2 linked regions of the Homo sapiens genome follow. The protein of the gene in region 1 interacts with the protein of each later gene in a biochemical or structural test. Each region holds a gene or a part of one and is shown in the gene's direction. Other genes may lie near its edges. The genes, in order: RAI14 and FEZ1.

Region 1 (3,222 bases):
CATCTTCGAGGCACATCACTCCAGCATCTGCTCAGTCTTCCCATCTCCTCCTTCAGCCTTTGATTTTCTTGCCTCCCTCTTATAAGGGCTCTTGTGATTACATCTAAAGCCCACCTAGATAATCCACGATAATCTCCCTCTCCATCTCAAACCCTTAATTTCATCTGCAAGATGCCTTTTGCCATATAAAGTTTAACATTCACAGGTTCTGGGGATTAGGATGTGGACATCTTTCAAGAGCCATTATTTAGCTTACCACAATATCTGTTAAGGTTTGAGTTGGCATGGGTACATTCCGTTTTCTACCTAAAGTCCAGGGTTAGTCTGTCCTGGACTGTCTCTAGCTTCCATATACAAACAGAACATGGATTTGATGATTTCTTCGGAATAGACCTAACTGTAGTGAATTCAGGTTTCTGCAGTCCTTACTCTGGCTGGCCACAAAGTTCAATGCTAGCTTTGGAGGAAACAGCTCTAGAAATGGTGGATACTTAGGAGAAGCTGCTCTTTACTGTGTTCTGCAGGTCATTCTTCTCCTGATAAAATGGTATTACAGACTTGTAGATAAAGTGCTATTGGTTTATACAGTAATTCTTATAATTACGCAACATGTGTTTGTTGAGCTCTTACATCAGTATTATACATGGGGCTGATGATATAAAATGAGTAAGACTCAGTCCCTGCCCTCAAGGAGTTTATACTCTATATAAGTTATCAGCAAAGAGATGCCCAGCATACCGTGGGCATACAAAGGAAATGTGTCTACCCAATCTTGCTGAGTCATGAAAAGGTTCCTACGGGAGTTACACTTGTGCTGAGTCTTGAAGGCCTGAGTAAGAATATGTTGTTACTTAGCAAGGACTGACATATGGCACTAGCTGGCTTTTGGGAACCTTGGTGAGAACCATTCCAGTGGAGTGGGGAGGAGGGTAGAATCTGGACCGCAGTAGACTGGCTGCTAGAGAAGTAAGTAAGTAGATAGGTATCTGGTGGGGCTAACCAGTCGCAGTAGGGGTTGGGGGAAGCCTGAAGCAAGCTTGCTGGAAAGATGGGAAGTGGTGGTTAGGGTGTGGGATGCTTTCAGTTGAGATTTCAGAGGTGGTAATGATAGAGGCAGGGCTACAACCATGACAGGAGTTGCTGAACTGAAGAGGAGCATGTTATTAAAGCTGAAGTTGAGGAACTGAGAGGTCCAGGTGTTAGATGGATCATTCACACAGATATCAAAGCCAAGCGAATGATGACAGAGGCAGTGATAGAAAGGAAGCCAGATCAGAAGATAAAATCATAAATAATTGAGTAGAGGTTGCTGAAAGGTGGGGAGGGAACAACACAGAGAAATGCCAAATGTGCCTTCTTATGATGTGAACTTAAAGGACGGGTTTTAAAATGTCCCTTAATAACAGGAAAGATACCTCATACTCTGACACTGATGGGGGGAAGGAAGAATGGGTATTATGGACTTTTGTACATTTTTGAAGTAATCCATATATGATGGTCTCAATTTTCATGATGAATTAGGAGGACAGGTTCTTAGAACAAGAGTTTCAGAGATAAGACCCTTGAAACAGCCACTGAGAGGAACTGGAGTAATAGCTCAACAAGGAGAAATAGAAGCATCAGCGGCTGTATTGAGGAACCACTGGAGATTGGGGCCACCACCCTCTTTGCCTTCTTAGTACACTGATAGCTAAATAATTGAGCTCCCCAAGGATTATACAATGCTGGCCATATAGTGGGTAATCAATAATTCCCTTAAAAATAATAGGCTTTAAAAATTAAATTAGTACATATTTGGTCATTGTAGAAAAGTTGAAAAATAAAGAAAACTCTAACAAGTTCCTATAAATAAAAATTTTCCATAATTCAATAACTCTGAGATAATCACTTTTTACATTTGATATATTTCCTTGCAGTATTTACATTTAATGTAGCTGTATTTGCATAAGTATATGTACATATATACACACACATATATACATATATACACACATATATAGACACACATACACACACACACACATACACACACACATATATATATATATTTTGAGACAGAGTTTTGCTCTGTCACCCACGCTGGAGTGCAGTGGCGTGATCTCGGCTCACTACAACCTCTGCCTCCTAGGTTCAAGCGATTCTCTTGCCTCAGCCTCCTGAGTAGCTGGGATTACAGGTACTGACTACTACGCCTGGCTAATTTTTGTATTTTTAGTAGAGACGGGGTTTCACCATGTTGTCCAGGCTGGTCTCAAACTCCTGACCTCAAGTGATCCACCCACCTCAGCCGCCCAAAGAGCATATATTTTTAAAACCAAATGTGGGGTGATAATAACTCCTTTTTATACAGTTTTTTCTAGAGTTGACATACCAAGACTTTTTTCCCTAAGATGATTGACAAGTATTCAGAAATACACAAGCCAGTAAGGCCACAACAATTTTAGAAGCTTCCAGTGCTAGCATAAAGTGGAGGGGACCACTTGGGTAGCATTTGGCTGCAGCTTTCTCATAGTTTTTTGTTTTTGTTCTTTAAAGATCTCTTAAGCTCATTAATAATGTGAAATATTCCCTTTCTAGGAATGCAAGAAACAACACCAGGAGGTCATATCAGTTTACAGAATGCATCTTCTGTATGCTGTGCAGGTATGGTTATGCCCCTTGAAGTATCTGGACATCCTAAAGAAATACGGCAGCAGATGTTGACAGAACTCCCATCATTTAACTAGGAGAATGAACAAGAATTAGAGGAGAATCCTTTTCACTGGAAAGCCTGAATATGCCTTTTGCATTGCTTTGGATTCTGTGTCAGGAGCCTTGTGCCCTGTTTACCAGGAACAGCCCCATCTTTTAAAGCAGGGCCTCACTCTGTCATGCAGGCTGGAGTGTAATGGCATAATCTCGCCTCACTGCAGCCTCGACCCACGGGCTCAAGTGATCCTCCCACCTTAGCCTCCCAAGTAGGTGGGATTACAGGTACCCACCACCGTACCTGGCAAATTTTTGTATTTTTGTAGAGATGGGGCTTTGCCATGTTGCCCAGGCTGGTCTCAAACTCCTGAGCTCAAGCAATCCACCCGCTTCGGCCTCCCAAAGTGCTGAGATTACACGCATGAGCCACCATGCCCCACCCTCCCATCATTTATTGAGGAATGAGGGATGATGTGGTCCTCCACTGGGAAGACGGGGGCTTTATTTTCCAGCAATGCTGATCTTCTTAGTTAC
Region 2 (3,830 bases), on another chromosome or scaffold:
TTCTTTCTTTCTTTCTTTCTTTTCTCTCTTTCTTTCTTTCTTTCTTTCTTGAGATGGAGTTTCGCTCTTGTTGCCCAGGCTGGAGTGCAATGGCATGATCTCGGCTCACTGCAACCTCTGCCTCTTGGGCTCAAGCGATTCTCCTGCCTCAGCCTCCCAAGTAGCTGGGATTACAGGCACCTGCCACCATGCTCAGCTAATTTTTTTTTTTTGTATTTTTAGTAGAGACAGGGTTTTGCCATGTTGGCCAGGCTGGTCTTGAACTCCTGACCTCAGGTGATCCACGCACCTCAGCCTCCCAAAGTGCTGGGATTACAGGCATGAGCCACTGTGCCCAGCCCCCACATCACATTTCTATGTAAGTTAGCTATCCTGGTTTTCCTAGAATTATTTTTAACTTTTTTTTTTTTTTTTTTAAAGATAGGGTCTCACTTTGTCACCCAGGCTGGCATACAGTAGTGTGATCATAGCTCACTATAGCCTCAAACTCATGGGCTCAACCAATCCTCCTGCCTCAGCCTCTCCAGTTGCTGGGATTACAGGTGTGAGCCACCGTGCCCAGCTTTGATTTTTCTAGAATGATTGATATTTATTGGATGCTTTCTATATTCTGCACATTGTACTTAACACTTCAAAGATGATCTCATTTAGTCCAAAAAGTAATCTTCAAGGGAAGCACTGTTTTAAACTCCATTTTATAGATGATGAAATTGAGGCACAGTGAGGTTGATAACTTGCCCAAAGTCTCCCAACTAGGAGTGACAGGACCAGGACAGGAACCCAAAGCCTATGCTCTTAGCCATCACAGAGTACTGCCTTAATCAACACAAATCCCTGGGCTGTGAAAACTGTTTTACTCTCTACTGCATTCTGCCATCTTTTCTAATCTCACTTTTTTGTTGCTCAGGGATTCTTAATCTTTTTTGCACTATGACCTCCTTTGGTGGTATGGAGAAGCCTGTGGGCTCCTTCTCCAAATAATGTTTTTAAATGCATAAAATAAAATACTTAGTCTTGTAAAGGAAACCAATTTCATTGAAATATAGTTACCTTCAAAGAGCCTGCAGGGGTCTATGTACTGAAGATGAAGAACCCCTGACTGGCAATTACTTGTGTTTGCTTTAGAGCTGTGTTGTCCCTTGCGGTAGCCACAGGCCACATTTGACTGTTGAGCACTTGCAATGTGGCTAGTCCAAAGTGAGATGTACTGTAAATGGAAAATATACACTGGATTTCAAAGGGCTTAGTATAAAAAAAGAATAAAAACTGCCTCATTAGTTTTTTTGTGGATTACATTTTGAAATGGTAACACTTTGGATATATTGGATTAAATAAACATATTACTTCAATCAAAATGATTAATTAAATTATTGATTTATTAAAAATAACTCCTAAAGATGTTAACTCTGTACCAACACCTTCCTTATAACAAATGAGGAAATCAGGACCAATGATGCTTGTCACTCAGCCAGCCATTGGCAGATCTGTTGGCTCTCGAGCCTGTCTTCTTTCCAAGATATGGTACTACTTGTATATATTTTTGTATTCAAAGGTCCTATCATGTTGCCTTTGCAAACTGTAAATGCTCCAAATATGTTTTAAAGCAACGGTAATCAACTTAATCCCAGCAAAATCCCGGTACAAACTGGCAGTGTTCTTGCCTGGCATGTCCTTTGCCTTGCTTATTTAGAGTTTTAGTTTTGTAGGTAGAGATGGAGAATGGGCACTCCTAGGGCAAAATCCATGAATTTTGCTGTCTGGTTCCCCTCAGGAAGCGCCTCCAATTTGAGCACCTAACTATATCAATAACCCTATAGACCGAAGAGAAAAGCTTGGTAGCCTTTCTGTTGAGCGTGTAGAGAAGGGTATGATAGTCAGCAATGCTTGTGCTGCCTGAAACTGAAAATGGAAAACTGTATGTGGGAGATAGATCATTTTTTCAACGAGCACATATTGATTGACTGCCTAGCCACAGGGTAGGCAGTGTATATTTGGAGCCAGGGAAGATATCCAGAGGATTTCTGTGTCCTCGAGGAATTTAAGTTAAAATTGAATGGGGCCCAGATGTACACACAGATGGATAAATCACAGTTGGAAGCAGTGCATGAAGATGGCCCGATGAGGGGTAGAGGTCCCACAGTTGGTGGGAACTGAAGGGAGTTCTGTGTGTGCAGCGTTCCAGGGTGCAGTGCCCAAGATGGTTATGGAGTATGGCTTTGGAGCACATGGGTAGTTGGGTCTGTTTCTTACAGGATACAGGATAATAGATCATTTAGTCTATTCCTCTGCTCCTAGGCATATGCTCTATGTGTGGGAAAACCTTGGGTGCTTGTCTGGGCACGGTGGCTCATGCCTGTAATCCCAGAACTTTGGGAGGCTGAGGCAGGTAGATCACCTGAGGTCAGGAGTTCGAGACCAGCCTGGCCAACATGGTGAAACCCCATCTCTACTAATAATACAAAAATTAGCTGGGTGTGGTGGCACACGCAGCTACTTGGGAGGCCAAGGCATGAGGATTGGTGGAACCCAGAGGTGTAGGTTGCAGTGAGCTGAGATCACACCACTGCACTCCAGCCTGGGCCACAGAGTGAAGCTATGTCTCAAAAGCGAAACGAAACAAAAACAACTCAGGCATTTATTGGAAGGTCTCTATTGATGTTTTATTAGTTTTTTTAAAAAAATAAAAATAGAGATGGGACCTTACTATGTTGCCCAGGCTGGTCTTGAACTCCTGAGTGAGCTCAAATGATCCTCCCACCTCAACCTCCCAAAGTGCTGGGATTACAAGCATGAGCCACCACATCCAGCCAATGTTTTATTAGTTTCTACTATTTATTGATAAGGGTAGTAATATCTAGGTATACAAACCCTTATCCAAAACCCCTGGGGCCAGGCATTTGGAATTCAGATTATTTCAGATTTTGGAAAGTAGTAATAGAGTGTACATTCCGCATTTCATCCAGTGGGATCTGGGATAGCAATCTTTGTAATTAAAAAGTTAATATTTCTGCAGCAAAACACACAAAATGGGATAAATTAAAGCCATGAACAGCTTTATATTCATGTTGGTCATGTTTAGTTGCCAGATGAGTTTAGATCATGTCACATTTTGCTGCCAAACAAGTCATGGAGAATTTTCAGCTTTCAGATCACATAGTTAAGGATATGGATCTGTGGTAATAGTAATAGTAATAAAAATAATAATACTAAAACACCAACAGAAAGTATTCAATAATATTGGCACTTATTATCTTCCAGGTACTGTTTTAAGCACTCACCTGTGTTTACTCCTTTAGTCTTCTAACAGCCCTTTGAGGTGGGTTCAGTATTATATCTGTCTTGAGAAGAATAAGAAGCACAGAGCAATTAATCACTTGCCCAAGGTCACAGCTGGTAGGACAGAACAGAATGCAAACCTAGACGATCTTGTCCAGGAGCTTCGTACTTAACCAGTGCCTTGTTTTTTGGAGTAGGGAATTGGAAGCAGGTGTGTCTCTAAAGTTAACTCTATTATTTAGATTAGCCTGGTCTAAACTCACATTACGCTGTTCATTTCTTTTAGATAAACTCATCCTGAAAGTCGCTGTTGTTCTCCTGCTGAGCAAGAATGGAGGCCCCACTGGTGAGTCTGGATGAAGAGTTTGAGGACCTTCGACCCTCCTGCTCGGAGGACCCGGAGGAGAAGCCCCAGTGTTTCTATGGTTCATCTCCCCACCATCTCGAGGACCCCTCCCTCTCCGAGCTTGAGAATTTTTCTTCCGAAATAATCAGCTTCAAGTCCATGGAGGACCTCGTAAATGAATTTGATGAGAAGCTCAATGTCTGCTTTC

Evidence for each region.
Region 2: the proteins of RAI14 (region 1) and FEZ1 form a complex in vitro, tested with the Homo sapiens proteins (one study listed by BioGRID).

What each region holds. Positions count from the first base shown.
Region 1 is NC_000005.10:34,827,155-34,830,376, forward strand, and holds part of RAI14 (ankycorbin), read left to right. Parts: intron 1-2,577; coding exon 2,578-2,643; intron 2,644-3,222. UniProt on the Homo sapiens protein: Plays a role in actin regulation at the ectoplasmic specialization, a type of cell junction specific to testis. Important for establishment of sperm polarity and normal spermatid adhesion.
Region 2 is NC_000011.10:125,489,555-125,493,384, reverse strand, and holds part of FEZ1 (fasciculation and elongation protein zeta-1), read left to right. Parts: intron 1-3,562; 5' UTR 3,563-3,607; coding exon 3,608-3,830. UniProt on the Homo sapiens protein: May be involved in axonal outgrowth as component of the network of molecules that regulate cellular morphology and axon guidance machinery.